Regions from separate parts of the Homo sapiens genome. Here region 1 is linked to region 2. The links come from fine-mapping of genetic effects on gene expression. A gene starts in region 2. The other region holds a variant in brackets. All regions are shown on one strand. Distances are between the middles of the regions.

Region 1 (16,428 bases), 64 kb before region 2:
ATTCTCATCAATAGCTTCAATCAAAAACTTTACTCAGATTATGCTATCAAACAAAAACTTGCTTTAGAAATCAATACAGAAGATTCACCCAGAATCCAGATTTGGTTTCAGAATCGAAGAGCTAGGCACAGATTCCAGGAAAGATCAGACCTGAGACTTTAGAGTCAAGCCAGAGCCATAAGCAAGATCAACCTGGTAGAGAAGCCAGACGGTGTCGTACTACCTACAGCACCTCTCAACTACGCACTCTCAACAAGGCATTTATGAAAAACCCATACCCTGGGATTGATTCCAGAGAACAAATTGCTAAATAAATTGGTGCTCCAGGCTGGGCATAGTGGCTCACAACTGTAATCCCAACACTTTGGGAGGCTGAGGCGGGTGGATCACCTGAGGTCAGGAGTTCGAAACCAGCCTGACCAACATGGAGAAACCCCATCTCTACTAAAAATACAAAATTAGCCGGGCATGGTGGCACATGCCTGCAATCCCAGCTACTGGGGAGGCTGAGGCGGGAGAATCTCTTGAACCCAAGAGGCAGAGGTTGCGGTGAGCAGAGATCGCACCATTGAACTCCAGTCTGGGCAACAAGAGCGAAACTCTGTCTCAAAAAAAATAAAAGAAAAGAAAAGAAAGAAAGAAATTGGTGCTCCAGAGTCAAGAGTCCAAATTTGGTTCCAAAATCAAAGATCTAGATTTCATCTTCAGAGAAAAAGGGAACCTGTTGTGTCCTTAGAACAAGAAGACCAGGGGCAAGATCTCTGAGGGACTTCAAGGTACAGAAGACACATACAATAGCACCAACCTCACTAGCAACTGTCACTTCCCTAGAGCCAGAACATGGTGAAAACACTCAAGTTCAGTGTATTTAGTATTATCAACTTGGGTCCCAAATCTCTCTCACGGTCTTCCTGGGAGTCGATCCTTCTGCTGAAACTGCAAGCTAAGCCTTCTGAAGAGGGTAAACAACTTGGCCAGGTGCGGTGGCTCATACTTGTAATCTCAGCACTTTGGGAGGCAGAGGTAGGAATATTGCTTGAGCCCAGGAGATTGAAACCAGCCTGAGCAGCACAGCAAGACCCTGTCTCTATGATAAAAAATAAAATAAAATAAATAAAAAGAACTGTAGGAGGCAGAGATAGGTACAAGAGGCATCACACTACCCTACTGACACAGCCTGGATCCAGAGTTCAGCAGACCTTGAGACAATGAAAATAAACTTAATAATAATAGTAATAAAAGACCTCCTTGGGATAACTGGTAAATTATGGAGGCTGAAGATGGCTGCTAGTAAAATGTCAATGCTAATTTTCTGATTTTGACAGCTGTTTTGGGGCTTCTATAAGAGAATGTCCCTGTTTGCAGGAAAGATACTAATGAATTCAAGGGTGAGAAGGCATCAGGCCAACAACTTACTCTCAAGTGATTTCAGAAAATAAAGTCCCTGATACTGGTCTCCCAACCTGTCTGCAAGTAAAAACATCATACACCTTATACCATATACTAAAACTAACTCAAAATGGATCAAATATCTAAATGTAAAAGCTAAAACTATAAAACTCTCAGAAGAAAACATAAAGAAAAAGCTTCATGATTTAGATTTGGCAATGATTTCTTGGATATAATATCAAAAGCACAGGCAACAAAAGCAAAAACAGACGAATTGGATTTCATCAGAATTAAAAACTTCTGTACATCAGAAAACACCACCAACAGAGTGAAAAGGTAATCCACAGGATGAGAGAAAATATTTGCAGATCATCTATCTGTTAAGAAATTAATACACAGAATACATAAAGAACTTCTGCAATTCAACAATAAAAAAAACACAAAGCAATTCAAAACTGGGCAAAGAACTGAAATAGATCTCCAAAGAAGATATACAAATGGCCAAGGAGCACATGAAAAGATGCTCAACATCACTAATCATTAGAGAAACGTAAATCAAAACCACAATGAGATACACTTCACACTTATTAGGATGACCAGTATCAGAAAACACACACACACACACACACAAACACACATACAAAACAGCAAATGTTGGTGAGGATGTGGGGAAATCAGAACCCTTGAGCATTGCCGGTAGGAATGTAAAATGGTACAGACGCTGTGGAAAACAGTATAGTGGTTCCTCAAAAAATTAAACAAAGAACTACCATATGATCCACAACCTGTACCTAGGTATTTACCCAGAGGAATTAAAAGCAGGGTCTTGAAGAGATATTGGTACACCAATGTTAACAGCAGCGCTATTCACAATAATGAAAAAGTGGAAACAACCCAAGTGTGCATGGATAAACGAATGGATAGACAAAATACGGTATACAAGAGAATATTCTGTGGCCATAAAAAGAAAACTCTGACACATGCTATGAACATAAGGCTCAACATGGATGAATCTTGAAGAAATTATGCTAAGTGACATAAGCCAGTCACAAAGGGACAAATACCATATGATTATTCATATGATACTCAGAGTGGTCAAATTCAAAAGGCAGAAAGTATTATAGAAGGGCCGTTGCCAGTGGCTGAAGGGAGAAGAGAATCGGGAATTACTACTTAAGGGTAAAGTTTCAGTTTTGTAAGATAAAAAGAATTCTGTAGATAGGCTGGGAGCAGTGGCTCACACCTGTAATCCCAGCACTTTGGGAGGCCGAAGCGGGTAGATCACTTGAGGTCAGGAGTTTGAGATCAGCCTGGCCAACATGGTGAAACCTCATCTCTACTAAAAATACAAAAATTAGTCAGGCACGGTGACGCATGCCTGTAATCCCAGCTACTCGGGAGGCTGAGGCAGGAGAATTGCTTGAATCTGGGAGATGGAGGTTGCAGTGAGCTGAGATCACTCCACTGTACTCCAGCCTGGGTGACAGAGCGAGACTCCGTCTTAAAAAAAAAAAAAAAAAAATTCTGCAGATAGATGGTGATAATAAAAGTTGCATAACAATGTGAATATACTAATGCCACGAAACTGTATACCTAAAAATTTTAGGTTATGTATAATTAAACACAATTTAAAAAAATCTTCTGACATATACCCACCCAGAGATACCATGTGTAAATGTGGGTAAACATATTTTTGTTAAGTCTGGAAGTAAATACATAGAACTTATTAACGGCGCTACCTCTGAGAATGAGAGTTATTGTCAAAAATATTTTTAGTGTATCTTAAACTTCTAAATTCTTAAAAGAATACTGATTTTATGTATTAGATATAACAAAAATTGATATAAAAATGCTATTTTATGGACTCATGAGAAAAAAGATAGGAAAATAACTGTTTCTATAAAAATACCTTTCTACCCAGGAATACTATAAAAGCTTACTATTAAAAAATAACATTTCTAAATTGTTACTTTCCAGTTAATACACTGCTTTCTTGCTTGGAATTTTTTTTCAAGTAGTAATTATGATAATAAGAGACTCTTCCCAAGAGAAAATGAAGGGGGGCAAAGGGACAACATGAAACTTAAAAAAAAAAAAAAATCCTCAGAGCATAAGGCCAGATCTGGTCTGGATTTCAAAATGAAATTTTATAGAACTTATACTTATCCCCTGAAGGTTTCATGACCCAACAATGACACGAATGGTTAATAATAGCCTTTGCCCTCCCTCTGCAGTCAAACAGCCATGCAATTCCTGAACAGAGCCACTGCCCGGGGGATATTATGTGAGTATCATGTTCCTGACTTAGCAAAGGAGAAGTGGAAAATGGAAACAAGGCCACAAACTCAGATCTTTCCATTACAAAGAAATTGAGGCTTCCGGGCTTCACTTTCATGATTAAAAATAGAAAAAGAAATTGACTTCACATTTTATGGAAAATAGTCAAACGAATATATTTTCTGTGAAGAATATTCATAGACATGCCATTCTTTTGTGTTTCGTTTTGACAGAAATAATTGCGATGGTGGAGCTAGTGAGGTATAAAGTGGCTGCTGCGAGACTCTTGACCAGCTAGCAGCAAGAGGCACGCTGGAGCCCACAGTAGGACAACCTTCTCCAGTCCTGACTTCCACTCCGCCTCTGGAGCAGCTGCCTCCCTTCTGACAATGACTTTCCATAATTTCCAAGCTCAATGAACACCAGGAAACATACTTTTCCAAAAATAAATCTTTCTTTTTCTGACAAGCTCCTATGACAGACATTTAGAAATTTCCCTGAAAATATTAGCTACAATAGTATACATAAATCAAATTCAATATACATGTTTCTTGGGCTTTTTACAGTATCTTTTTAAAATTAATGTTTTTGTATTTGGGGGAAAACTGGGCAATAGTGAAACACTTGGCTTCATGTTGACCAGGAAAAAGGAGACTGCTTCCCTGAACTTGCTTGCTTTTTTTTTTTTTTTTCTTAAAAAAAAAACCATCAAACAAGTTCTGGCTTTTGTGTCCAGACTGTGCCCAAGGATCACTAAAAACCAGGGGTGAGCATCGCACTCCTTGATGTCCAATGTCTGATGTCATCATAGAAACTCATGCCATGGAATCCCTCCACCATGCTGGCCTTGGAGGCAAGAATGGGGTCATTCCTGCAGTGAACTGTGGGAGGTTGAACTTTACAATATTACTCTCTAATGCTCAAGCCACAGTATGAAAGAACCAAACATGAGTCACTGACAGAAAAGCTCTACTGTGGAAGGCAGAATATGAGAGTGGTTGAGGGCCTCCAAAGTGTATCCAGAATCTTTCCACAGCTCCTAAATGCCCTCTCTGCCACCCTGTCACAAGCCACACATCCCCCGATCCTGAGCCTACACTAAACCCAGTCTCATCCATCTCTGCAAACACAAATCAGAGCTCTCAACATTCTAACAGGTCTTTGGCTTACTAACAATAAAAGCCAAATTCCTTACCTTGGCCCATGAGGCCTTGTTCCATCAACCCCAGGTCACAGCTCTGGCCTCAGGTTCTGCCCCTCTCCCTGTCACCCTCCAAGCTCCAGCCACACTGGCCTTTCTTCCACCAGTCACCCTAGAGCTCTGCATCTGCTGACCCCTCTGTCTGGCACTCTTCCTTCAGTCTTCACTGGCTCCCTCTTATCTCAGCATCCTTCCCTAGCGCTTGCACCTAAGGGGACTTCTAGCCAACAGCATTCTCTACACCTAACCCTGTTTGATTTCTTTATATCATCAGAATTTTAAATTATACTTGTTTTTGTTTTTGTTTGTTTCTCCACTAGAATGGAAGCTTCATGAGGGTACAATGTTGTTTCAGTGCTGGACCTACATGCAGGGCCAGCACAGAGCAAGCACCCAATAATAATCTGCTGGATAAAGGTATTGGATGAGTAGGTAGTGGACAGGTGAGTGGATGGATAGATGGATGGATGGATGGATGGATGGATGGATGGATGGATGGATGGGCAGATGGAGGGACATATGGGTGGATGGATAAATGGATAAATGAACAAGCAAGCAAACAAACAAATGAGCATGAGCTTTTTATTCAAGGGCATTACCACTACGAAATCCTTGCCACACCACGTGATGGGGAGCCAAAGGCAGGAAGAAAGGCCTCGCCTGGATGGGCACTGAGGTAAGCATCATGTGTGAAGAGCTACCTATCTGAAATGAACCTTAAAAGATGGGGAAGATGTCAGCAGGTAGAGACAGGGAAGGAGTTCATTTCAGGTGGATGAGCAGAGACACAAAGGAGAAAAAATTGTGATACTTATTCATGAAACAATAAATAATCTGCAGGAAACTAGTCTACAATTCATTGTGAAAAGCTTTTACCATGAACTGAATAGGTAATAATACATCATAAAATATGAGCCCTTAACAATTTCCCATGTGTGTTTAAATGTAAATGATCAGCTAACTGCCCATGGAAGCCTCCACATTCATGAATTTCATTAAACTACAATTTCCATGCAGAGGCTAAGATGTCGATCACCCTGGGTTTTTATTCTAGTTCCATTAACACTTCGACAGATGAGTAAGGCATTCCATGTCTGGTACTCAGAAAGCCAAGAAAACTATAAATTACTTTCAACTACAAGTCTTAAAGTGGCTACACTGCTACAATCTTGCACACTCATTGAGCAATCCACATGTTGGGCTCATCTCTCCTAGGAAAAAAGTTATTACCCCAGCATATGCCTCAATGTCACCCAGTAGAGCGGCTGATCATCAGTCACTAACATATTGAGCTGTTGTTGCTGCATCGGCTTTTCCCTGACACATCTGTAATTGCGTTGAGAAGGCACCATATTCTGGAAACATTTTCATCACTGCCTGTGTGGCAGGGGGAAGGGGTGTTGGGAGACTGAGGGCTCGTTGATGAATAAGAACAGACTCACATGTGACCTCAATAATCAAGCAAAGCCATCTTGTTTCCTGGCAGCTGCAGTAACATAGGTTGTAAAGTATTTTTAGACAGTTGGGGGTGAGGAAGGGAGGGCAGGGTGGTCCAGAAGAAACCAACACCTGGAGCAGATGATCACTGCAAGGCCTGATTCTCTCTATTCCAGTAGTTCCCAAATGTCAGTGTGCTTAGGAGCACACAAAGACCTGGTTAGAAACATAAATGGGCTACTCTTCTGCCTTCCTCATCCAGACACTCCAGGAACTCTGGCTCAGAAAACCTGGGTGGGCCCAGGACCCTGCATTTTAGTAAGCACCATGGGTGGCTTGATGCCAGTGGTCCTCAGTCTGCCGTTTGAGGAACACTACCACCAACCCCTGGATAACTTTGATAGAGAAAGAATGTGTAATCTCTGCACACAACAGTCCCCAGTCCACCAGCCTCTTCACTTCTTGGGACCTCCAGAGAATGTGACAAAAGTCCTGGTCCCCTTTTTCCCAGCAAAAGGCACTTGCACACATCCACACATACAAAACTTGTGGGATAAGCTCAGGCCAGTCTGTGAGCCCCTAAGAGTCTACTTGATCCAACTCACACCCCACTGACCCATCCTAACCTTCTCTTTAAGATTAAAAAAGATAACTACCTCATCAGTCATTACAGACTACACCTATACTGCGGCAAGCTGGCAAACACCTCTGTGTAGATAAGGGTTTTATCTATGCCTGTAAAAAAAGTATAGCAAGTGCTGCATTTTTTAGAATTCTATCACTTCCAGATCTTTCATTCTCTCTCCATTACTAAAGCAAATGTTTCGGCAAGGTTTTCTGCAAAACACCACTGACTGGCAGAACATTTTTCTACAATTACCCGGGACTGTGAAGCTCCTGGTAAATCACTTAACAAGCTAAGAATTCCCAATTAAAATACTGAGTCTGTTTAACTAAATTATTGCTATGCACAATGTATAAATCCATGGAAGGAAAAACTCTACCTCTCTCCCTTCAGAATAAAAAGGATGCTGTTAATCTTTGGCAGGTCAAGTCAGCAAGGTAAGGAGTTCGTTTTTTTTTAACACACACACAAATGAGATTATAAGATTAAAATAACTAGGAATCTGCCCAAAACACATATACAGGAACAAACAAATAAAGCCCTTAAACCTTAAATGCACTACCCCATTAGTGTCCTGAGAGACTGGTTTAAAGCAAAACAGATATTTTGCTCTGGTTGGAGATTAGAAATGTCTTATGTGTCAATGGTAGAAAAGAAACAGATCCTAGTTTTTAATTTACCAGACATATTCCAGTAGAAGAGAAAAAAACTCTTTTCAATTTTTGCAATTTCCTTAACCTGTGCTATGGATTTAAGATGGTAAGGTGAAAGTCAATTGATTAATCAATTCATCAATGGGTCCCCAACAAAGAGACAGTCATGCCAGCCTTGTAAAGGCTTCTTTTTAAGCCCACTATGAGCTGACTTAGGACAACCATCTATTTGGAAACAAATTAAAGTGATAAAAGTGATCCCTTACAGCTCTCCACCAGGAAGAAAAACATCTACTAAGCTCCCACCCTTTCATACCAAATATTCATGCAATAGGCAGGCATTCCCCCAGGCACTGACAAGGACTCAGGATAAATTCTGACTGTGCAGAGCAGTGGGCTGGGCTGAGTGAGGTCAGGAGCTCCACCATCTCTACACCCAACTCACTCCCCAGAGGGCTGAGCTGATCTCATAATTCATGGAAAGCAGGTGCTCAGACAGAAAGGATCAGAAATCCAGGTGATTCCATGTGTGGTGAGAGGTCTGGCCAGGTGGCGCCCTAGCCCTGGTAGGAGGCCTTCCATGTGGCAGCCTACGTCCCAGAAGTCAGCGTCACTGACAAAGACTGCACAACAGCAACAACTCTGTAATGAGGACGCTTTGCTGAGTTCCCACTTCTGTTTTGGTGATACTTCAGCATAAACAAAGCTGGACCCTCAGTCAGCGTTTGTTCAATAAATTAATATGACAAAATGAACTAATATTTCTGGAGTAATTGACAAGATCTGGCTACCATCTTGGCAACCAGACTTTAAAACATACTCCTGCAGCAAGTCAACAACTCGAGCTTGGTTCAGGCCATGTGAACACTGAAGCTGAAACCAACCACAATTAGGGAGCTAGAATCTAGAATTCAAGCCTAAAAACAGAGTGAAAAGGAGTACATTTAAATAACTGTTCTTCCATGAAGAGATGCAAAGTTATTAGCAACAACATAATTCTTCCTTATATTCAGAGTACTTCTCATTTGATTTGTCCCCCAAACTGAAATATGCAGCAAGTGAGAGCTCCCCTCTGTGCACCTGTGATGGGGCCACCTGGTAGAAGCAAGCCACCTGTGTGCTCATGTGTCCTTCATTTCACCTCTGGATTCCACAGCAGGTAATCAAAAGGCTGCCCCTGTCACTGGAAGTATAAATAAATAAAACCAAATG[T/G]AATTCTTTTCCCCCACACCCCCTTACCCTACATATTTCTTTCAGATCCTACAAAAGCCATGAATGTCTCAATCTTGACATTCCAAGGTCCAGGCTCAGGGATTAATGCTTGCTGATAAGACAAGTATACAGAGAAAATTATGGACAGAGCAACGGTGATACTCAGAGGAGCGTAAAATTAATAGCTCCGTAAAATTGAAGGCACCGTGTTTCGCTAGCCAACTCATCCCAGTGATTTGTCAATAAACACGTCCGTTAACTCAAACATGTATACTTGAAAGTTCATTTTTTTAGCTCCTTCCAGCATTTCAATTTAATGAGGGCTTCGATGGCACTAAATAAATGAGAATGTAAATAATTAATGGCAACACTATGAACTAAGTGGGCCCTAGGCCCCAGGGAAGAGTCCTTCAATTACCAATGGCCCTTCTCACCAGGAAAAACCTCCATCTGCCCCCCAATCCATGTGAGGCTCAGGAAAACAAGCCCTACGCAGAGAAAGAGCACTTAAGATTAAAACAAGACAAGAATAAGCTTCTATCACAGAAATGGCAGGCTAGGGTGTTAAAATCTCCCAATATCTAGCCACCAATGGAAGAGCTCATGCACCAGCAATCATGCACTAGGTAATAATAAGCAGGATGTTCCTACCAGAATCGTGTTCTCCTGCAAAAAATGCACCAGGCAAAACAGCAGTCAGTTGGTTCTGCTGCTGCTTCCATGTCCTGTTCCCTTTGGAAATATGTCATTTGGAGCAAGAATGTAATGCTCTCCTTCCAACTTATCACTGCCAGGACATAGCATGAAACCCACGCAGCAGCCTATAATGTGATGGGTATGCTGCATGGAAAGCATGCAGATGCTGCAGCAGCCAGTTCTGCAAACAAGCAGCGGTCCAGTTAGAAAGGCAAACTGCTGGTTACCTTTACCAGCTCAGTCTTCACCAGCAGTAGCTGCATCACATAAGTAGAGCTCTGAGATTCTTGAAAATAAGAATCTACCCTTATTTGAAGTAGAAATTTGAAAACAATAATTGGGAATCCCTTCTACTTTCCATATCCTTAAAGGTCAGCTAAAACCTCCGGTCCCCTGGGAGGCCCACTCGGCTGAGAGGCAACAGCAGTGACAATGGCCTTCTCTGAACTCAGGACATTCATAGACACCACAGCCCACCAGCTGTGAGCACCACTGCTAAACAAACACCACCCCTCCCACCCACACACACCTCCCTGGACAGGGCAGTGAACAACACTCAGGGAGCTTGAGTTTTATGAGTGGTGTGGACCATGATAGCAGATGGTGTGAAGTCTGTGAAATACACCATCAGAGCAACAGGGCAGAGTAGAGTAGCCGAAGGGGCTTCCTGGGAACTGTGGGGGTCAGAGATTCTTGGAGAAGGAGGGGGAGACCCTGGAATTGAGACAAGAGCTCCGAGGTAGGAAAGAGCTTGACCCTCTTCTCAGCAAGGGAGAGGAGGCAACAGCAGATGCAGTAGGTGAAGCATAGGGATGGAGGGAAAGACAGCCACAGAGCAGGCAAGAAAGGGCCACGGACGCCTGGTCACTTAGGCCTTGGCAAATGACAGCAAGGAATGCAAGGCTTCAGCAAAATGCACTTGGAAGGCACTGAAGAGTTCTAAGGAGGAGCACAAACTGAATGGTCTTGTAACCTTTCCTAAGTTGTCTTATGCTGTCCACCTCTTTCACTGTCATTAACCTTTCAGGTTTATGTTGCCCAAAATCTATCCCCGGCTGCACAGGCTGGGCAGCAGCAGTTCCTTCTCTTCCTCACAGTGCCTAGCACACCATCAAATACCAAAACGACACTTGGTGCTTACATACATACACAAATGCATGCACACATACCCACATGCACATGCACATGGGCACACACATCACATATACACACACACATACACACACATACACATATGCACACATACCCATGCACACATATACATCCATATACACACACACATCATCCATTTGTTCAGATAGTTTAAAGAACTTATTTATATTTTAAAAGAACCTGCTAAAAGAATCATTTTTCTATAACGTTGAAATTTGCCAAAAGAACCATTTTTCTTTAATGTAATTGTAGCAGTTTTCATTACTGATTGGAATATAATGGAAAAATAAAACACTGAGAATTAAAAGCTTAATTGATAGAAACACGTGTTTATCTATCAGTAAAAAGAATTTGGCTGTGCTCCTCCTATCAACACAAAAGCAAGCAAATTAGCTATTTGCTCCAAGAGGAAACTCCTTCTAATTCAGAAGAAAAGGCAGAGAGAGGCCCCAGGCACAGGCCAGCACCAACCTAACACAGGCCGCTTCTGCGCCTACCCACCGCCACCTACTGGAGAGCTAGGGGCAGAGCGCAGTGCAATGTTCAGGGTCTGAGGCTTCTGGGGGCCAGGAAACTGGTCCATGTAAATGAAGTTGATGCAAGACAATTTGTGTATTTGAGGAGAAAACTCCTAAAGGATTCAGAAATAACTAAAAGTCTTTTTTAATCCTTATAAGTTAACATGGCTCGTTAGAAGTTTAAAAAATGCCTACTTGAGGATTTTTTGATTTGGGGAGAGGGATTTATTGTATAAGGTGTACAGCATGATGCTCTGATCTACATACACATAGTGAAGTGATTACTACAGTCAAGTAAATTACATGTCCAGCATCTCACACAGTTACCGTCCTTTATTCTGTGTGTGCTGAGAATTCCTAAATCTACTCCCAGTGCACAATATGATACTGCACTCCTTATGGTGTACATTAGATCTTGAGACTTACTCACCCAAAATAACTGCATCTTTGTACCCTTTGACCTAAACAAGAAGAGGGTACTGGTTGAAAGAAAGGTGAAGATTCTAAAGGCAAAATGTACTATTCTACCATTTCCAGAAAAATATTTAGAATGAAAAAAAGACTAAAATTTTTCTCCAAATAGAGTTAAAGCAGAATAATAACTAAAAACTATGGAATAATGATCAAATAAAACCAGAGGGAGTAGCCAGAGGCAAGACAAAAACCCAGAGAGAATGACGTCCTGGGAAACAAGGCTCCAGCCATTTCCAGGGGCAAAAGTGGGCAGCAGTGGCAAGAAAAGTGTTCTGAAAAATGGGCATGAAATAAAGCAATGTGAGGTCACTGGGGCCCTCGGTGAGAACCTTTACAGACCCAAGGACACTGTGGCAGAGCAGAAGGGAGGAAATGGAAGCATTTCTCAATTGGAGACATTTGGGCATATTTAAAACCCAATGGGATAAGATGGATGACTGTGAGAGGCAGACAGAACCAACAAGAGGACAGAGGCTTCCAGGAAGCTGCTGAGGAGGTGGAAGGGAAGGGCTCCAAAGCCCAGGTCAGTCTAGACCCACAGCCGAGCAGTCACACAGGCCCCATCTTCAGAGGGGCCCCACCTTTCGTTTTATGCTCTATGTCACCACCTTGAAATTTGTAATATTTTTTGAACAAGGGGCCCCACATTTTCATTTTACACTGGGCCTCTCAAATTATGTAGCTGGTCCTGGCCCCAGGGAGAGGCTGGACTCAGCCCAGGAAAGGGTAGCTCTGCTACCACGGTGGCAGAAGGGGGATAGAGAAGCAGAGTCAATGCCATCTGCTGGCTTCTTTCCCTGCAAAGCTGAGAGAGAGCTGTCTGCTGTGAATGAGCCAGAGGACAGACAAGGGGAAAGAGGTTAGCACTTCATCTAACATGGAGGTATCTGGTAGACTTCACCTGAACCAAGTAATAAGGCTGGTATCACAGGTAACAAGACAAATCAATACCACATACCTCCTGGTAGGATGCACTATGAAGGGCACAAGATCACTTCTGTGCTATTTCCTATTCCTGTCAACATGTATTACCTCAATATAATCATAGAAAACCCAAAGTGAGAAACATTCTACAAAACAGTAGACTAGTACTCTTGAAAAGTATCAATGTCACAAAAGACAAGGAAAGGCTGAGGAACTGTCACAGATTGGAGAAGACTAAGCAGAAATGACAACTAAATGCCGTGTGGAATCCTGCATTATCCCGGAGCAGAAAAAAGACATTTAAAAAACCTAGTGAACTTTGGCTGGGCGCGGTAGTTCACACCTGTAATCCCAGCACTTTGGGAGGCCGAGGCGGGTGGATCACCAGGGCAGGAGATCGAGACCATCCTGGCTAACATGGTAAAACCCCGTCTCTACTAAAAAAATACAAAAAAATTAGCCGGGCATGGTGGCACGTGCCTATAGTCCCAGCTACTTGGGAGGCTTAGGCCGAAGAATGGCATGAACCCGGGAGGTGGAGCTTGCAATGAACGGAGATCGCGCCACTGCACTCCAGCCTGGGAGACAGAGCGAGAATCCGTCTGAAAAACAAACAAACAAACAAAAAACCTAGTGAACTTCAAATAAGGTTTGTAATATAGTTAATATAATAGTACTATATCAACATTAATTTCAAAGTCTTGGTCATTGTACTATGGTTATGTAGACATTGAAACTAGAGGCAGTTGGGTTAAAAAGTATATGGAAACTCTGTTTTTTCAACTTTTCTGTAAGTCTCAAATTATTTCACAATAAAAAGCTTACATTTTCATGTGGACTTTTCATTTGTGATTTTTTTAATGTCATTAGTCATTCCAAGACCCTCAGTTACTACCACTGAAGTCTAGCCTACTACATCAGACATGTTCCTCAATACAAAAAGAGTCAGAAACTGCTATGGTTTGGATTTGTGTCCCCACCCAAATCTCATGTTGAATTGGAATCCCCAGCATTGGAGGAGGGGCCTGGTGGGAGGTGACTGGATCATGGGGGTAGACTTCCCCCTTGCTGTTCTCGTGACAGTGAGTTCTCATGAGATCTGGTTGTTTAAAAATGTGTAGTACATCCCCCTGCTTTCTCTTATTTCTGCTCTGGCCATGTGAAGATGTGCCTGCTTCCCCTTCACCTTCCACCATGATTGTAAGTTTCCTGAGGCCTCTGCAGCCATCCTTCCTGCACAGCCTGCAGAACTGTGAGCCAATTAAACCTCTTTTTTTTAATAAATTACCCTGTCTCAGGTATTTCTTTATAGCAGTATGAGAATAAACTAATACAGAAACAAAAAAGAAAGATTATGTTCCACTTTAAAAATCTGGCTTTGGCCAGGCATGGTGACTCTTGCCTGTAATCTCAGCACTTTGGGAGGCTGAGGCCCTAGGTGGATCAGTTGAGCCCAGGAGTTCAAGACCACCCTGGGCAACATGGTAAAACTCCCTCTCTACACAAATTCAAAAATTAGCCCAGCATGGTAGCGTATGCCTGTAGTCCCAGCTACTTAGGAGGCTGAGGTAGGAGGATCACTTGAGCCTGGGAGGTCGAGGCTGGAGTGAGCCATGATCGCACCACTGCACTCCAGCCTGGGTGACAGAGCAAGACCCTGTCTCAAAAAAAAAAAAAAAAAAAAAAGGCCGAGCACAGTGGGATTACACCTGTAATCCCAGCACTTTGGGAGGCCGTGGCAGGCAGATCACCTGAGGTCAGGAGTTTGAGACCAGCCTGACCAACATGGAGAAACCCCGTCTCTACTAAAAATACAAAATTAGCAGGGTATGGTGGTGGGCGCCTGTAATCCCAGCTATTCGAGAGGCTGAGGCAGGAGAATTGCTTGAACCCAGGAGGCGGAGGTTGCGGTGAGCCAAGATGGCGCCATTGTGCTCCAGCCTGGGCAACAAGAGCGAGACTCCATCTCAAAAAAAAAAAAAAAAAAAAAAAAATCAGGCTTTGAACAGGTTGCCCAGCTTCACGTTTCTATCACGCTGTCCCCTTACTGCCGCATCACTGGCCATCACAGCATGCTAGCAAGGGAGGGAGACTGGGAAGGAAGAATGGAAATGTTTGCTCAGTCCTTCTTCCTCTGCCTGCCAGGCCCTACGTGTCTCTATCCAGTGAGTGTGTTAATTAAGCCTTTACAAGTATGCTAAGCATCTATGAGACCACGCGGGTTCCAAGGACTATTACACATTTCCTTTCTCTATTTTAATTAACTTTTATTTCATGAGAGCTTACAAATTGGCAGCAAATCCAGGTCAGACACTGCTTTAGAAAAATGGAGATTTACAGCAAACCTTGGGGGGCACATCTATCCACACCTGGGACCAAACCCAATTCAGGTAACCATTCGGAATGGGTGAACCGGCCAATCCAGGGCCATTGCTCTGCTGCCACCCAGGGGCAGGTGGGCGCCACGGCACCTGGCCAAGGGAAGGGAAGCCCAGGGGAAGAACCTGGCTCTGCACAGGACATGTCCTCTGGAATTCAAAGGCAGGACGAGGCAAGGGAGAAGTGCTGTACCCACCGGCCACAGTACTCAGGAGTGCACCGTAAACATGCACTCTTGGGAAGGCAGGTATTAAAATAAATACAACGTTGCAACAATGATGTATTTCCTCAGACCGAGGACTCTTCCAGGGACTAAAGGGATGTTACAGGCACCCAAGGGACGGAGCCAGGCACCAGACTCCAGGCTTACCTGCTTTGGGTCAGAGGTAGCAGTGCCGGGAGCTGGCGATTCCAGCTCTATGGTCACAGGCCCATCATTCTGAATGTGCACCTGCATGTAGGCCCCAAACTTGCCATCTGAAAAAGCAATCCAAACAGTTACCAAAGATGGAGACACCAGATTACTCCATCCAAAAGCACACTGTATTAGTTCATTTTCACACTGCTAATAAAGACATACTCAATACTGGGAAACTTACAAAAGAAAGAGGTTTAACGGACTCACAGTTCCTCACGGCTGGGAAGGCCTCACAATCATGGCGGAAGGCAAGGAGAAGCAAATCAGATCTTACATGGATGGCAGTAGGCAAAAAGAGAGAGAGCTTGTGCAGGGAAACTCCCGTTTTTAAAACCATCAGATCTCGTGAGACTTATTCACTATCACGAGAACAGCACAGGAAAGACCCGCCCCCATGATTCAATTACCTCCTACCAGGTTCCTCCCACAAAACATATGAATTGTGAGAGTTACAATTCAAGATGAGATTTGGGTGGGGCACAGCCAAACCATATCACACACCTAGATCAGCGTGATCCAAAACCCGGGTCACAGTGGGAGAAGGAGGTTGACCGGGAGGAGGATCAGCCACTCAACACAGGAAAAGTTAGCCAGCCTTGTAAGAGGGATGGAAATGCAGGATTAAGTAGCACAGAGGCTGCTGCGTGCCCAACAGATTTGGCAAGAAATAAAAGGTCTGGTAACACCAAGGGTGGGAAAGAATGTGGGTTACCGGGACTGTACATGGTGGGAAGGCAAACACAGAGCATTCTGGAAGGCCATGTTTGCACTGCATGCAGTGAAGCCCTCCATCTCCCTCCATGGAAGGCACTGCTTTTGGGCTACTGCGGCACAGGCAGGCCTCACACCCTGAGGTCCTTCCGCAACCTGGGTGACCTCCATGAGTCTCTGTTCCTGCCACCACAACCTCACAAATTCCTTCTCTGAGTCTTTCCTACCAGTGGGTCCCTAACTTCAGAAGGACTCAGCAAAATGGGCATGCCAACAGACAGCTTTCTTTGGCCCACAGACAGTAGCATTGGAAATTGTATTAGAAGCACCCAAGCTGTTGGCCATGTTTATAAGCAAGATTA
Region 2 (16,428 bases):
CTATTTGGGAGGCTGAGGCAGGAGAATCGCTTGAACCCCAGAAGGCGGAGGTTGCAGAGGCAAGATCACACCACTGCACTCTCCAGCCTGGGCAACAGAGAGAGACTCCATCTCAAAAAAAAAAAAAAAAAAAAAAAAAAAAACAGAAACAATACTAATATCTGGATATAGCTTTTTCCTTTGCCACTAGAATAAAATATATTTAATACTAAAGTTCCCTTTGTGTATTCAACCTTTCTTTGATGATACAAGACGCTGCTGTATCCCAAGTCATCTACCACCACTCCATTAGATAGCAAATACATAAAGCCAGTGGGTACAATGTGTGGCCAAACTGCTACTTACCCTAAATCCACTTCACTTTTGTTCTTAATAGAGCCCTGATGGTAGTTTCTGACTTGTTCTCTGGCTCTCACGAAAGCATGAAACATCCTGGTAACTGGAGCACTCTGGCATTTGGATTTTAGAAAAGTAAAAAGTCTTCCGTGTTTCTTTTCAAAACGTATAGTCAATACCTCCGTTTCTTTGCTTTATGAGAGGAAGTTCATATGGTGCCAAAAGCTTAGACTTTGGTGCCAGAAAAACCACGGCTTCTGTGCTAGCTCTGCCACTTTCTATATGACCTTAGGAAATGTGACTTAGCCTGATTCAGCTTCAGTCTTCTTATCTGTTAAGTGCGGATAATATCTTGTCTTCATGATTGCAGTGAGGAGTAAATATAACACAGGAGCACTCAAAAAACAATCTTGCAGCAAACAATCTAAGTATATTTTCACAACCACACAGATATGATTGGGCCATGTCTGTCATTTTGGAAATGATGATAGGTCATATAATTAATCTTAAAAGTCTAATTCAGGCAGTTAAAGCAGAGCTCCCCAGAGGGTTGAAAGCCCAGTGCTGTGTGTGCTAGAACCCGTGGGAGCACAGCACCCTAAAAAGCATGGTTTTCATTCCATCAGGGTGAGTTTCTGTTGCTAGGAGCACCTTAACTCCATCACTTCTTTGACATCAGCCATTTCAACATTTTTCTCTAATCCATCAGCATACAAATTGGGGAGTGATTTTCTTCTCTGAAAATGGATTAGTCCAGGAGAGTCTCATGTTTGCTTTGAAGTATGCTGGATCTGAGATGGAAAAATACAAAAACAGGGCCAGATGGTCCTCTGATTTGAAATCACCAGAAAGTCTCTGTGAACTCCACGTGCCTGGTCCCCAACTACACGTGTCCTGCCAGAAAATGCACTCAAAATACCTCCTCACCTTGGATGTTACTTTGATTCACCTACAGTGTTTGGTGAGGCAGCAACTACAGGGCAGGCCCGGCCACTGAGCAACCAACCGAGTCCTGGGACCTCCAATGACCAAATTCCATCAGGATACTGTTACGGGAAAAAATCGGAAACTTGGAATCTAAAGCAAAAAACGTAGTGAGTTCTTTCAATGTCATCTTGGGGCACTGTGTTTAATGGGCTCACTCAAGAATTATTTAATTAATTAGGATATTTAATTAATTAGGGTACCTTTGTTTGACTCATCATCTACTTTTTTTTTTGAGACGGAGTCTCGATCTGTTTCCCAGTCTGGAGTGCAGTGGCGTGATCTCAGCTCACTGCAACCTCCGCTTCCTGGGTGCAAGTGTTCCTCCTGCCTCGGCCTCCCAAGTAGCTGGGATTACGTTCCACCATGCCCGGCTAACATTTGTATTTTTAGTAAAGACGTGGTTTTGCCATGTTGGCCAGGTTGGTCTCAAACTCCTGACCTCAAGTGATCAGCCCACCTCGGCCTCCCAAAGTGCTGGGATTACAAGCGTGAGCCAGAGCACCTGGCCAACATTTTTTTTTTTTTTTTTTGAGGCAGGGTCTTGCTCTGTCACCCAGGCTGGAGTACAGTGGTGTGATCATTGTTCACTGTAGCCTTGAATTCCCAGGCTCAAGCAATCTCCCACCTTAGTCTCCTAAGTAGCTGGGACTACGGGTACGCACCACTGCACCCCACTGATTTTTTAATTTTTTGTAGAGACGGGGTCTCACTGTGTTAGCCAGGCACCGTCACCTACTTTTAATTAAAGGCTTGGATTTTGTGAAGGTTCATGTTAACTTGTAAACTTTTGTTGGATAAAAATAAAAATAATTTCTGTCCATTAAAAAATAATAACCCAAAATTTAGGGCTTTATCCCCGCTAGAACATTAACCAGAAATCTTATTCTAACTCTTTTTTCTCCAGTGCCTAAATAACCTCTGGTCCTTTCTTCTTCTTTGAATCAGCTTTACCGTGCTGCTGGTTTTCTCATTTATGACTTGAACAAATATTTGACATTTGCTCATTCTTGTATTTGACTCATGTTTTTAACTTTTGAAAAGTATACTTGACAATCCTGAGCCTCTATATGTCACAGATATAGAGTGGGACTATAATAGAGTGGGACTATAATAGTATTCCTTCCATAGCTGGGTAGCCTTTGCCTGCATAGCATGTCCAGGGTCCCCAAGACTACCCCCAGGTTCAGTGATTTGCTGGGAGGACTCACAGGGTTCAGCATATAGTTATTGTCACGTTGGTGGTTTATTACAGCAAAAGGATACAAAACAAAATCAGCAAAGACAAGAAGTGCACGGGGCAAAGTCTGAAGGAAAACAGGCACAGGCTTCCAAAGCCCTCTTCCTATGGGAAGGGACACATTCTTTTCCTCTAGCATTGATTTATTTTTTTTTTTTTGAGATGGAGTCTCACTCTGTCAGCTCACTGCAACCTCTGCTTCCTGGGTTCAAGTGATTCTCCTGCCTCAGCCTCCCAAGTAGCTGAGATTACAGGCATGCACCACCATGCCCAGCTAATTTTTGTATTTTTAGTAGAGAAGGGGTTTCACCATGTTGGCAGGCTGGTCTCGAACTCCTGACCTCAAGTGATCCACCTGCCTTGGCCTCCCAAAGTGCTGGGATTACAAGCGTGAGCCACCACACCCAGCCTGACAACACTTTTCAAGTGTGGCCTACCAGGGTAGCTCAACAGAGACTCAAAATTTAAGTTTTTTTATTGGGGATTTTAAAATATAGACACACTCTACATAACACATACCAAAATTCCAGGTGGGTGGAGGCAGGGTGAAGGGTGGGCTGGACGCAGAGAGATGTTTGAGTCTGCAGAAGCAACACTTGGACCCCCAGGTACCCACCCCAACTTCCTGCACTTCACTCAGGAAACCTGAAGTTTCTGCTCTGGCCAGAGCAGAGGAGGGGGATGTGGCCCCGGATTCAATGGAAACCCTTATTCTAAACAACCATCTCCAAACCCCTCCCCAGTCTAGTTCCCAGGATTCCTACAGCCAGGCATCTACCCTCGATCCCTGTGGGAGACTGGAGAGAGGACCCTTCTCCTGGGAACTGATTGACAGATGCTGGCATGTCAGTACCTCCCACTAAAAATATCTGCCTTGCTGTCTCTAGTGGACATTTGTCATGGTATTTGTCTTTCCAGCATTTTGTGAACATCCTATATTTGGGGAACTTCTTACCTTAAAACTCCATATATCCCCACAGTAGAAGCCAGAAATTCTTTCCCAGACTTAATTGCAGCTAAGGCCCAGGAGTGTGACCAACACACCCTGAGTTAGGCATCCCCATGTGAAACTAGATTCGGAGACGAGTGACGATAAGCAGGCTGCTCCGGGAAGCCATTCTGATGTGGGGTCTTCAGAAACTCCCTGCTCTCAGAGGTACTGGAGGCAGGGGCCCGGCAGGAACAGCCTATTTTGTCAGCATGACCCCACAGTGCCTGTACCTGGTGGTGGTCTGGCAGGATACTTGGGGTGCCATTCCTGGCTGCGCTGTCTGTAACTATGTTTCCCCAATGATCCCCCTAATTCTGGGAGTTTCCCAATATCCTTTGCAAGGTTCCTTTTCAGCATGAACTGGCTCCAGTTCTGTGGTGTGTAGCTAAGAATCCTAACTTCAACACCAACCACCAGTAAAAAGCCAGTCATAACTTAACAAACACCTACCCCCATCCTCAAGCTGCAGAAGGTTCGTGAAAGGTTCTTAAATCAATGCCTGTACAATAAGAAGGGACATGAGACAAATGCCTCCAACTTGAGAGAGACAAAAACAAGTCATGTAAAGGAACTTATAGCAGTGCAAGAATAAATAGTAAAACAACTTAGAATACCTCCAGCCATCAGAAAATGTTGTATTCATCAATGAATAGGATACCATAAAAAGGAACTAATTTACAAGAGCTTTCTATAATAGCCAATATTAAAATGCAATTAAAAAGTTGGATTACAGCCAGGCACAGTGGTGCACACCAGTAGCTCCAGCTACTCAGGAGGCTGAAGTGGGAGGTTCACTTGAGCCTAGAAGTTCGAGACCAGCCTGGGCAATATAGCAAAACCCCATCTCAAAAAAAAAAAAAAAAAAAAAAGTTGTATTATATAAGACATAATGTATTTGCTTAGTTTTTGTTGTCTGTTTCTCCGCTGGAAGATAGAACTGCTTGAGGGCCTTGTTTATATAGTACTCAGCACACAGAGCAATGCTGGCCCAGCATCCCATGGTAGGCAGGGCTATACAAACTGGCCCCAAAGTCTAAGGAAGCCGAGAGGCCAAAAAGGAGGCTGACAAATCTGGTTTCTTAGAAAGAAACACTTAATAGGGACGTAGGAACAGAAGCCGTGTCTGTGTCTTGGGTGGCTGCCAGGCAAGATGGCGGATCCCTGAGCCATCACCCCGCAGACCCAGGGCTTTTATACTCTAGGGAAGGGTGGTTCAGCAGGGATATGTGGGACAACTGAAGTACAATAACATCAAGGTTGTTGGATCTAAGGGCAGGATTGACTGTAAGGACATGCTCTTACACAAGGAACAATAGATAAGCTGCAAATCTTAGAGGCCTTCATGGAACAAGGGTTAATCAGAATCCAACATGGCAGATCAGCGTCCAAGATGGATTTGCTTTGTCCTCCACACCCAAGGTAGGGGCTCAGTAGCTATCTGTTGAATGTGAAGGATGGTGGGATACACCACCAAAAAATATGCCACTTTGGCATAAAATTTATTTCGAGCTAAAGACACTTGAAAAATAGCAGGTGCAGGAAGGGTGATCTGACCTCCTCTTTTCTTTTTGAAGAGGAGATAGGCCGGACGCGGTGGCTCACGCCTGTAATCCCAGCACTTTGGGAGGCAGAGGCGGGTGGATCACCTGAGGTCAGGAGTTTGAGACCAGCCTGGCCAACATAGTGAAACCCCGTCTCTACTAAAAATACAAAATTTAGCTGGGTGTGGTGGTGTGTGCCTATAATCCCAGCTACTCAGAAGGCTGAGACAGGAGAATTGCTTAAACTCAGGATGCGGGGGTTGCAGGGAACTGAGATCATGCCACTGCACTCCAGCCTGCGCGACAGAGCAAGACTCTGTCTCCAAAAAAAAAAAAAAAAAAAAAAAAAGCAAGCAAGAGATAAAACTGCCATGTGGAAGATGCCCTCCCTATACCAGGAGGAAAGAACCATTCTTATCACCAGAGATGGAGAGTCAAGGTCGAGATAATTCTATACAAACAGGCCTTGTTTAAATAACTCTTATCCTCCTCTGGTTTCCTGTACATTTTAGTTCCTTTTCCATAATTGCCTCTTTTTGTTTAACTCAGTATATAACCAGTTAGGTTTTGCCACTTTGGGTCTCCATTTTTCTATGGGGGCTCCCAAGTGCATGTAAGAATCTGTACACTTTACTTTGGCTAATCTGTTTTATGTCAATTTAATTCTCAGGCCCAGCCACAAACCCTAAAAAGTATAGGTAAAATTTTGCCGCCTTCACAAGTGTATAAGTAAATGAATGACCCTCTCCCTGAAAAGTAGAAAATAAACAAAGAGATCAACAGTAGTTAAGAAAAAGTATAAAATAATAAAAAGTAGTCTGGAATGTCTATTAGGAATTCCAGACACAGAGAAAAAAAATTAAAAGGCAAACGGAATTCCTAAAAAATAAGAAAATTCCCCAGAACAAAACAAGAGTTTCCATGAACTAAGAACCCACTGAGTGATCAGCCTAGTCAATTTTTTTAAGCCACACTAGGTGCATCATTGTAAAAATTTCAGAACACTAGAGATGAAGGAGGTCCTAAGACCTTCTGGAGAGAAGAAAACAGGTAATAATCAAAGATTAGGACTTCTCAGCTGAAATATTGGAATTGCTAGAATACAGGGGACTGATGCTTTCAAAATTCTGAGGGAAAGTAATGATCAAACCTGGGGTTCTGTACCCAGGCCAACTAGTAATTGAGTATGAGAATACGAAAAAGACATGTTCTGGTCGGGTACACTGGCTCATGCCCATAATCCCAGCACTTTGGGAGGTGGAGGCAGGCGGATCACTTGAGGCCAGGAGTTTGAGACCAGCCTGGCCAATATGGCGAAACCCCATCTCTACTAAAAATGCAAAATTAGCTGGGTGTGATGGCGCAGGCCTGTAGTCCCAGCTACTCGGGAGGCTCAGGCATGAGAATTGCTTGAACTTGGGAAGCGGAGGTTGCAGTGAGCCGAGATCGCACCACTGCACTCCAGCCTCGGTGACAGAGCGAAACTGTCTCAAAAAAAAAAAGACATGTTCAGACATGAAAAATCACCAAAAAATTATATACCCTTTTTCAGAATTATGGGGACACAGTATCGAGAAAACAGAGATCCATTATAGGATGGCAAAGCAAATAGCAAAGAAAAATGGATGCAAAGCAGAACTAGAGTGATCAGTCCAGATTGTACCAAGAAGACAAAGAGCTCCAAGATTTAAAAACAGAAAAGAGAAACTGGAAAGGTTTGTGTGGAAAATTATATTGTGAGGTTAGAGGATGTGGAAAGAATGAGAGAGAAACATCAAGAAAACAAAGCAAATGAAAAAAAGAGTGCAGTTAACTCCAGAAAGAAAAGTTATATGAGAAACAATTATAGCTCACTTACTTGGCTTATCAACAAACTATGTTTGCATAGTTAAAACAGGGTAAATATTAATTATTGATTCATCAAAAATATGCAATAGTTTTATTGGTTAGTCAGTTGGAAAGGAGGATCAAATCCTCATTAATAAATCCCATACATGATTGATAAATTAAAGATATTAGTAAAAGCTTATTATTTAGAAATGTGGACGTAAATACCAAAAAAAAAAAAAAAAAAACCTAATAGTTGAAAGCAAGGAGGGATAAAGCAGGAACTGTTTTTTTGGTTACAAACTTTTGATCATTATTTAATTTTTTAATGCATTTGTTGCTTTGTTAAAAATATAAAAATTAATTTCAAAAAAGTCATGCTGGCTAATACTGTAGAAACCAATTGGAGGGGACTCCAAGTAGAGACAAAGAGAGTAGGAAGTTGAGGCTACATAAGCAAAGAGGATGGAGGATTTAAGTAAGGTAGTGGTAAAGGGAATGGGAAGGTGGGAATGGAGTGGAATATTTGCAGTAGAAATGATGGGACCTGGTGGCTGGAGGAAGGAGAAGGAACAAGAAGAGGGAGAAGTCTAGAATGATAGGTTCCTAATTTGAGGAACTGAGTACTCTCTGAGAAAGAGAACGGAAGGAAGAGCAGCCTTGTGGGTGATGACAGCAATTTAAGTTATGGACAAAGCTGAGGTGGCTAGATATCCAAGTGGCAATGCTAGATGGACATGGATCTTGAGTTCAGGAGAACGCTGGGCTGAAATAAGAGAATAAATTAGATCTAGCAAAGAAACCCAGCCAAGTCCCAAGGAAAGCTAACCCAAATGTCCCCTTAAGCCCCACAAGTGTATGAATCCTGGGTAGACTGCCAGGTGAGAGTAGAAGTTCAGCTGTTTATCCTCGGTGTGCTCTATTAACAACTCTCACCTGCCAAGTGCCACAGCCCCTCAGCCCTTGCCCTTTGTTTCTCTGGAAGCCCTCATGTTAGGAAATGTCTTCCAAAACGTTCATGCTACTGTTCCCATTTCTCCCATACTTCTGATTCACTTGCTTCTCACCTTCCCCATCTACTGTCGTACACTGCTTCTCATTCATCAGTTTGATGCCAACCAAGATGGTCCACTGGAATACACAGCCAATTGGCACGAATCCATGCTTGACCTGATATCCCTTGGGAAGCTGAGTCTCTGCTACCAGCATCTGGAGCTGTTACTTGTGATTTTGGAATCCTTGTCACTAAGGCTGACTGCACCACAGCACTGCTCAGGCCACCCATAATGGTGGAACTGACACCAATGAGAAATCAAGATGAGGGTCTGAAGGTCATAGTACTGTAGAGGAACCCTGAAATGCCCAATTCCTGTCCTACCACACATCACATCTCTACTCACAGGGTCCCAACAGCTATGAACAGGAAAACACTACCTAAATGAGAAACAAATGCCACTTTATTCATAACTGAGGCAGTACTCTATAATCCATAGGCAGGGATCTGATAAAAACTGAACTGAGTCTCTCGCAAGGGTGGAAGCCAAAGACCAGGTTGAGGAGAGGCTGGTCAGACTTTGGCACTGCACATGGGAGGTAGTATCTTCTTGGGATATTTGTATTACTCCAGAAAGGTGAGAAAAGCAGCTGGTGTGCAATAAGAAAAGCAAGGCCAAGAGCCCAGGCAGGCTCAACAAGTGGCTGCCTGCATTCTGGTCCCAGTGTCAGGCCTTCTGAAGACAACATACTGCTTTTTTTTTTTTTTTTTGAGATGGAATCTCGCTGTCAACAGGCTGGAGTGCAGTGGTGCGATCTCAGCTCACTGCAACCTCCGCCTCCCAGATTCAAGCGATTCTCCTGCCTCAGCCTCCCAAGTAGCTGGGACTACAGGTGCGCGGTGCCATGCCCAGCTAATTTTTGTATTTTTAATAGAGACAGGGTTTCACCATGCTGGCCAAGACGGTCTCGATCTCTTGACCTTGTGATCCGCCCCTCGGCCTCCCAAAGTGCAGGGAGTACAGGCGTGAGCCACCGCTCCTGGCCCATACTCTCTGCTTTAATTCTGAGCTACCAATACACGTTTTTTATAAACACCCACTTTTGATTTAAGCTCACTTGTGTTTGTTGCCTGCAACCAAGAGACCACTGAGGAAACTGGTTCAGCATCAATCATGTCGTCCTGACTGCATTCCCAGCATTAGAATAGCACTGGCCACAGTTGGTGGGTAATCCACACTTGCTGAAGGAATGAGGGGTATGTGCACTGGTCCTAAAGAATAGGTCCAGTCTGTTTAATTCAGAAGTTACAATCAAATTTATATCATACTTACCCAGTACGCAGTAGTACCCAAAGGGCTACTGTGAATCCCAAAGTGAATATGGAGATTTGCTGAAACTAACCTTAAAGCGACCACTAAAGCTGTGCCTAATAGCAACATGAAAGAAATATAAATCTACATTAACTAGTTTCAGGAAATCAAGCTTATGGAAGCTCTATGTGAAATTTCACAGCAATCTTTCACTCATGCAAATACAGAGGAACACCTCTTGAAAATGCAGATAGTAGGCCGGGGACCGTGGCTCACACCTGTAATCCCAGCACTTTGGGAGGCTGAGGCAGGCGGATCACAAGGTCAGGAGATGGAGACCATCCTGGCTAACACGGTGAAACCCTGTCTCCACTGAAAACACAAAAAATTAGCCAGACATGGTGGCAGGCGCCTTTAGTCCCAGCTACTCGGGAGGCTGAGGCAGGAGAATGGCATGAACCTGGGAGGCGGAGCTTGCAGTGAGCCGAGATCGAGCCACTGCACTCCAGCCTGGGTGACACAGCAAGACTCCGTCTCAAAAAAAAAAAAAAAAAAGAAAACGCAGATAGTTTCCTTCAAGAAAATATTTATTGCATATTATTAGTGATTATGTTTTACAGCAAATTTAAATACATACACTTTTCACAAACCCAAAATGGGAATCAGGGCAACTATCAAATTTAAATGTTGAACCAAGTCCTGGTTTTCAGAATTCAGCAGCCAGTCATGGTTCTGTACCAGGGCCACCAGTCCATGATTTCCAATAGTTGAGGATCTTTTCTGTATTTGGAACAAAATCTTCTTTATATGTGACAACTGTTTCCACATAAAATCCTTTTGGGCGTTCAGAGAGTTCACTGGGTACTTCACTTGCTGAGCCATCCTTTTGGTCTACTTTATCACCATTAAGAGAAAAAAAAAAAAAGAACACCTGAATTATTAACTTAGAAAGCAGTCATTAAAGTCTTAGAAATTAACTAAGGTAAGAATTACATCCACTCTCTCCAACCCCAATAATGAAGGAAGGAATGAAAAGGAAGGGAAAAGAAAAGCTGGGTGCGGTGGCTCACGCCTGTAATCCCAATCTCACTTTGTGGGGGCCGAGGCAGGTGGACCACCTGAGGTCAGGTGTTTGAGACCAGCCTCGCCAACGTAGTGAAACCCCATCTCTACTAAAAATACAAAAATTAGCTGGGCGTGGTGGCATGGGCCTATAACCCCAGCTACTGGGGAGGATGAGGCAGGAGGACTGCTTGAGTTGGGAGATGGAGGTTACAGTGAGCCAAGATAGCGCCAGTGCACTCCAGCCTGGGCGACAGAGCTAGACTCTGTCTCAAAAAAAAAATAAAACAATTCGCCGGGCAGCAGTGGCCTGCGCCTGCAATCCCAGCTACTCGGGAGGCTGAGGCAGGAGAATCACTTGAGCCCGGAGACGCAGGTTGTGGTGAGCCGAGATCATGCCACTGCACTCAAGCCTGGGCGACAGGGTGAGACCTTGTCAAAAAGAAAAAAAAAAAGAACGAAAGAAAGAAAACATAAATATGGACATTAAAATATTTTTACTTTATATATAAATGTAAAGTATTTTTACCATATATTACATATAAAGTAAATATAAAATATTATATATAAAAATTTCTTTTTCTTTTGGTAGAGATGGGGGTCTCCCCATGTTGCCCAGGCTGGTCCCGAACCCCTGGGCTCAAGCAATCTCCCACCTCGGCCTCCCAAAGTTATGGGATTACAGGCGTGAGCCACTGCACCCGGCCAAAATGTTTTTAAATGCTTAATGCTGGACACATGTACTTTCAGGCCACTGACAGCTTCATCACCAAATGTAATCTTCAGCATAGTTTTTACACAACAACTTTACTGAGATATAATTAACATATACGATTAACCCACTTAAAATATACAATTTAATGTTTTTAGTATATTCAGATTTGTGCAACCAGCACCACAATCAATTTAAAAATACTTTCATCCACAAAAGGAATCCATACCTTTGGCAGTCATTCCCCAACTCCCCAACCCCTCAGCCCCTAGCAACCACACTAATCAACTTAATGTCTCTACAGATTTCCAGCATATTTTTCAAAGCTGAGAGACTTTTCTCCCTTTGCGCTTAGTAACTGGAAGATTTTAATACGCCTTGGCTGCTAAAAGTACTGAAATTGCTCGCCATATACGATGAGGGACAGTAGTACTGAAGCATCACTCTTTAAAAATCACCGGCCAGAGTCTCTGAAAGTCCACCTTGCACTTTACACAGATTCCTCCAATTCTGAATATGGGGACGGCCCTATCCAGTAAATGATTCAGATTTAGGAAACAATATTTACAAGGTATTAATAATTCCTGGAGTCTAGTTCTTTGCAGATTCCATTATAACAAACGGCTGTTAGCACCCGTTTCAATTAGTTTTGCAGAATAAACCTGGGATTTAAAGGACAGGGAAGTTGTTTCCATGACCCCCGGGGAACTCTCATCGAAGGCCGTGTGTTCCGGGGCAGGCCCCGCCGAAGAGCCCTACCTGACGACTTCGCCATTGTCCGGCTATAGTAAAGCAGTGAGCCCAACACAGACCAGGTGCCGATCCCGTAGACCACCGACATCCGCCGGTACCAGGCCGTGAACTCATTTCGATACATGGGTACGCCAGCGAGTGCCTCGATTCTCGCAGGCCCACGGCAGAGGCGGGACTTCCGGTGAGGGCGTCGCTGCGGTCCCTGCCGCCGGAACCATTAAGGAGCCGCCAGTTTTCAGCGTCCGCTTCCGGCTCTGCCCCGATGCACCTTGGGGCCTCTGGCCCGGAAAGTCGCTCAGGTGTCCGGACTTTCGGGTGTAGAACTGTGGGCGTGCGATACTTTTTACCACGTGACGAGGACTAAATGACAACTTAGAGGAGAAGCTTCTCACTTGCAAAATTGTAATGCCTTCGTGGGCTCCAGACGGTATCCGAAAAGGTTACTTCCAATTCCTCTTCCAGTTTTCAGATTTGCAGGGATACCGCTTGTCTCTCCCCGCAACTCTTCTTTTCCTCCATTTTTCTTTCCGGAACTCTGGGTGAACTTTAAATACTTCCAGGCCAAAGCTAATCCCTCCACTAGGCTCTGGGTACTATTTTTTCCAGCCTCAGTGGCCTTTCCCCTCATTGACACCCTAAGTCCTCCCCCATCTTCATTATTGACGTTTATCCTTCATACAAACGTGCCCATGTCTCAAAAACAAAAAATCTCCTTCGACTCCGACCACCTCCAGCTTTTGTCTTATGCATACATTTTTTAAAGCAAGATGCCCTCAATAGACTGAACAACTTAAGAGCAAGTGTGATGTGCTTGGCACAAGGTAGGCCCGGTAAATTAACGTTAAGTACTTTTCAGCCACACTCAAACTTGGTTTCGAAAGCATTTGCCACCACTGACCCCACCTGCACCTTTCATGGCTTCAGAAACATCATTTTCCCTGGTATCCTTCAGGGTTCTTTTCACCTTGCCCACCCTTTAAAAACTGATGTTCTGCCCTACAGAAATAGATAAAAAACTTAACTCTGAATGGATCGCTGACTTAAATGTAAAAGCTAAAACTATTTAATATAAGCCTAGAAAAAAACCAGGAGAATATGTTTGCCATCTTGGAATAAGCACAGAATTCTTAGAATAAAAAAGGCATCCCAAGCGGGGTGGCTCATGCCTGTAACCCCAGCACTTTGGGAGGTAGAGCAGGGAGGATTGCTTGAACCCAAGAGTTCCAGACCAGCAAGGCCAACATAGTGAGACCCCATCTCATTTTATATATATATGCATAAAGCGAAAATGGATAAATAGGGCTTTTAAAAAAAAATTAAAATTTTTGCTCTTTGAAGGTCACAGTTGAGAAAATGAAAAGCCAAGCCACAGAATAAAATATTCATAATAACATATATCTAACAAAAGGACTTGGATCCAGAATATATGAGGACGCTTTACAACTCAGTTATAAAAATACAGCCCAACTAAAAACCAGGCAATAAATTTGAATAGAACGAAAGAAGATATACAAATGACCAATAAGCACAGTAGCATCATTAGTCATCACAGAAATGGACATTAAAAGAATACAATAAGAGACCATTACACACCTACTAGAATGGCTAAAATCAGATTGAGAATGCCAAGAGCTGTAAGGATTTGGAATAATTGGAACTGTTATTGATGGGAACATAAAATGTTACAATCTCTTTGCAAAACTTAGTTTTTAAAAAGTTGAACATATGCCTACCATATAACCCAGGCATTCCGTTTCTAGTTATCCATGAGAAATGAAAACCTGTGTCTGCACACAGCCATGTACATGAATGTTCATAGTTTTATTCTTAATAGGAAAAAATAGAAACCACCCCCAATACCCATCGAGTAAATGGCTAAACAAAACGTGGGATACCACTTACAAATAAAAAGGAACTACTGGCTGGGTACGGGTGGCTCACACCTGTAATCCCAGCACTTTGGGAGGCCAAGATGGGTGGGTCACCTCAAGTCAGGAGATCGAGACCAGCCTGGCCAACATGGTGAAACCTCGTCTCCACTAAAAATACAAAAATTAGCCGGGCATGGTGGCGGGCGCCTGTAATCCCAGCTATTCCAGAGGCTGAGACAGGAGAATTACTTGAATCCAGGAGGCGGAGGTTGTGGTGAGCCGAGATTACACCACTGCACTCCAGCCTGGGTGACAGAGTGAGACTCCTTCTCAAAAAAAAAAAAAAAAAAAAAAAAAAAGAACTACTGATAAATACAACCATACGATGAATCTCAAAATGGATTATGCTAAGTGAAAAAGCAAGCTAGACACCAAAGAAACCAGTCACGAAATTCTAGAAGCAAACTCCAGTGGGAGAAAGCTGATGAGTAGTTGTCTGCAGTAAGGGCATGGAGAGAGGGAAGGGCTAAAAGGGTCTGAGGAGACTTTGAGAGGTGATGGTAATGTTCTGTATGTTGATTATTGTGGTGGTTTCTGTCAAGATTTATCCAATTGTATGCTTTAAATGGGTGCAGTTTATTATATGTGAACTATAGCTCAATAGTTATAGACAAAACAGAAAAATTGGTATTGTTTCAAGCTTGCGTCTCTTCTCATCCTTCTCATCAGCCTTACTCATGATACCTATGTTATATGTTAATAACTCTCAAATCTACTCCAGATTCTCTGAAAGCAAATTCATGTTACTGCCAACCTGCTATGCATCCTCGGCTGCATATTCCACAAGCTCCTGAAACTAAAAAAATGTTCCGAATTGAATTTATCAATGCCACTCCCAACAGGAAACAAACCTTCCCTTTCTCTTCCCTGATTCAGAGAGTGATTGAGAAATTGCCCAAGCCAGGAACTTGGAATCATCTCACCTGACATCCTCTGTCACCTCTGTCTAAATACCCTGTCTCTGTTTAGGCCTCATTTCTCACTTGGATTACAGTCTCCTCTCATCCTTCCCCCTCTGGAGTGTCTTTCAAACCTTAAATTATCATTTCACCCTCTGCCTAAGATAAGTCAGAGGCTTGCCCTACCTTCAAGATGGAGTTCAATACCCACAAAAATTAACAATTAATAAAAAGATGGAGTTCAGAGTCCTCACTGGGCATACTGGGCTCAGTGGCCCCTTCTCATGATAGCTGTTTTCCACACAGCACTATCACCCTGCCACCCCCTACATTCTGTGGAAAAACGTCACTGGTACCCTAAGGTGGGACCTGCATGGCCATGTCATACCATGCAGTTCCCTCAGCTCCTTAACTCACTGACACTAGAGAGAACCGCAGAGTTAGCTGGGTCTATCACACAGTCTTTTTTCTGTTAATTTGAAACAGAAAAGCCAAAGAGGATGTTTTGGCCTTAATCTGTACAGACAACTTTATGTATTCTTCTATATGATGTGTTAAAAATTATATCCAAAACTAAAAATATTCTTGGAAAACGCACAGAAAAATGTAAATGTTCAACTTTTTTTTTTTTTTTTTTTTTTGAGATGAAGTCTCCCTCTGTCACCCAGGCTGGAGTATAGTGGCGTGACCTCAGCTCACTGCAACCTCCACCTCCGAGGTTCAAGTGATTCTCCTGCCTCAGCTTCCCAAGTAGCTGGGATTACAGGTGCCCACCACCACTCCTGGCTAATTTTTTAATATTTTTAGTAGAGATGGGGTTTCACCATGTTGGCCAGGCTGGTTTTGAACTCCTGACCTCAAGTGATCTGCCCACCTCAGCCTCCCAAAGTGCTAGGATTACAGGTGTGAGCCACCGCACCTGGCCAATGTTCAACATTTTAAGATAGGAAACTCTGCTAGAATTCTGCTAGAATGTAGGGCAGAGACAAAAAGAAATACAATAACTTGTATTCGAATACAAATTCAAAACAGAGTATTGCAATCAATCCAGCTGTTCCAACATCCAATTAATAGGAGCTTCCAGCTTCATTTTCCTACATAGCACTCATTACCTTCTAATGTATCATTTACTTCATTTCTTTTTTGTTTTTTATTTTTTTGAGACGGAGTCTCGTTCTGTTGCCCAGGCTGGAGTGCAGTGGCACAATCTCACTGCAACCTCCATCTCCTGGGTTCAAACAATTTGTCCCTGCCTCAGCCTCCCAAGTAGCTGGGATTACAGGTGTGCACCACCATGCCTGGCTAATTTTTGTATTTTTAATAGAGAAAGGGTTTCGCCATGTTGGCCAGGCTGGTCTCAAACTCCTGACCTCAGGTGATCCGCCCACTTCGGCCTCCCAAAGTGCTGGGATTACAGGCATGAGCCACCACGCCCGGCCATATCATTTACTTCTAACATTGTTATTGTTGGTCTTCCCTAACTAACACATAAGCTCTATGAAAACAGGAATTTTTGTTTTATTGGCAGTATTCCCAATGCCTAGAAGACTACTCCATAGACAACAAGTACCGGATAGTTATTTGTTGAACGAATGAAAGAATGACTCCAAAGTTCTGAGATTATCTTGGGCCTATACTTTTTAGACCCAGTGGGTTAGTCTGTCTTTGGATCTCTGTAATGGAACACCCGAGACTGGGTAATTTATTTTAAAAAGAGGTTTACGGTTTATGCTTATGGCTTACGGTTCTGTAGGCTGTACAGGACGCATGGTGCCAGCATCTGCTTCTGGTGAAGGCCTCAGGAAGCTTACAATCAGGGCAGAAGGTGAAGAGGTAGCCCGATGTA

What was found. PIP is the estimated chance that this variant, and not a neighbour inherited with it, causes the effect.
Region 1: its variant is fine-mapped to the expression of SMIM26 in blood mononuclear cells (TOPMed, PIP 0.97).

Annotation. Positions count from the first base shown.
Region 1 is chr20:18,627,113-18,643,540 of GRCh38, reverse strand. It overlaps DTD1 (D-aminoacyl-tRNA deacylase 1), which reads right to left. Exons shown (of 6, transcript NM_080820.6): 4 at 15,308-15,414. It also overlaps the pseudogene DUXAP7. Among named protein-coding and RNA genes, the nearest start is that of DTD1, 47 kb to the right of the region's middle. The variant T/G (reference allele first, on the strand shown) is at 8,795.
Region 2 is chr20:18,562,927-18,579,354 of GRCh38, reverse strand. It overlaps SMIM26 (small integral membrane protein 26), which reads right to left and starts at 11,923. Exons shown (of 2, transcript NM_001348957.2): 1 at 11,759-11,923; 2 at 9,795-10,119. The coding sequence starts at 11,876. The coding sequence ends at 9,950. RefSeq lists a silencer at 11,790-12,072 and an enhancer at 12,136-12,235.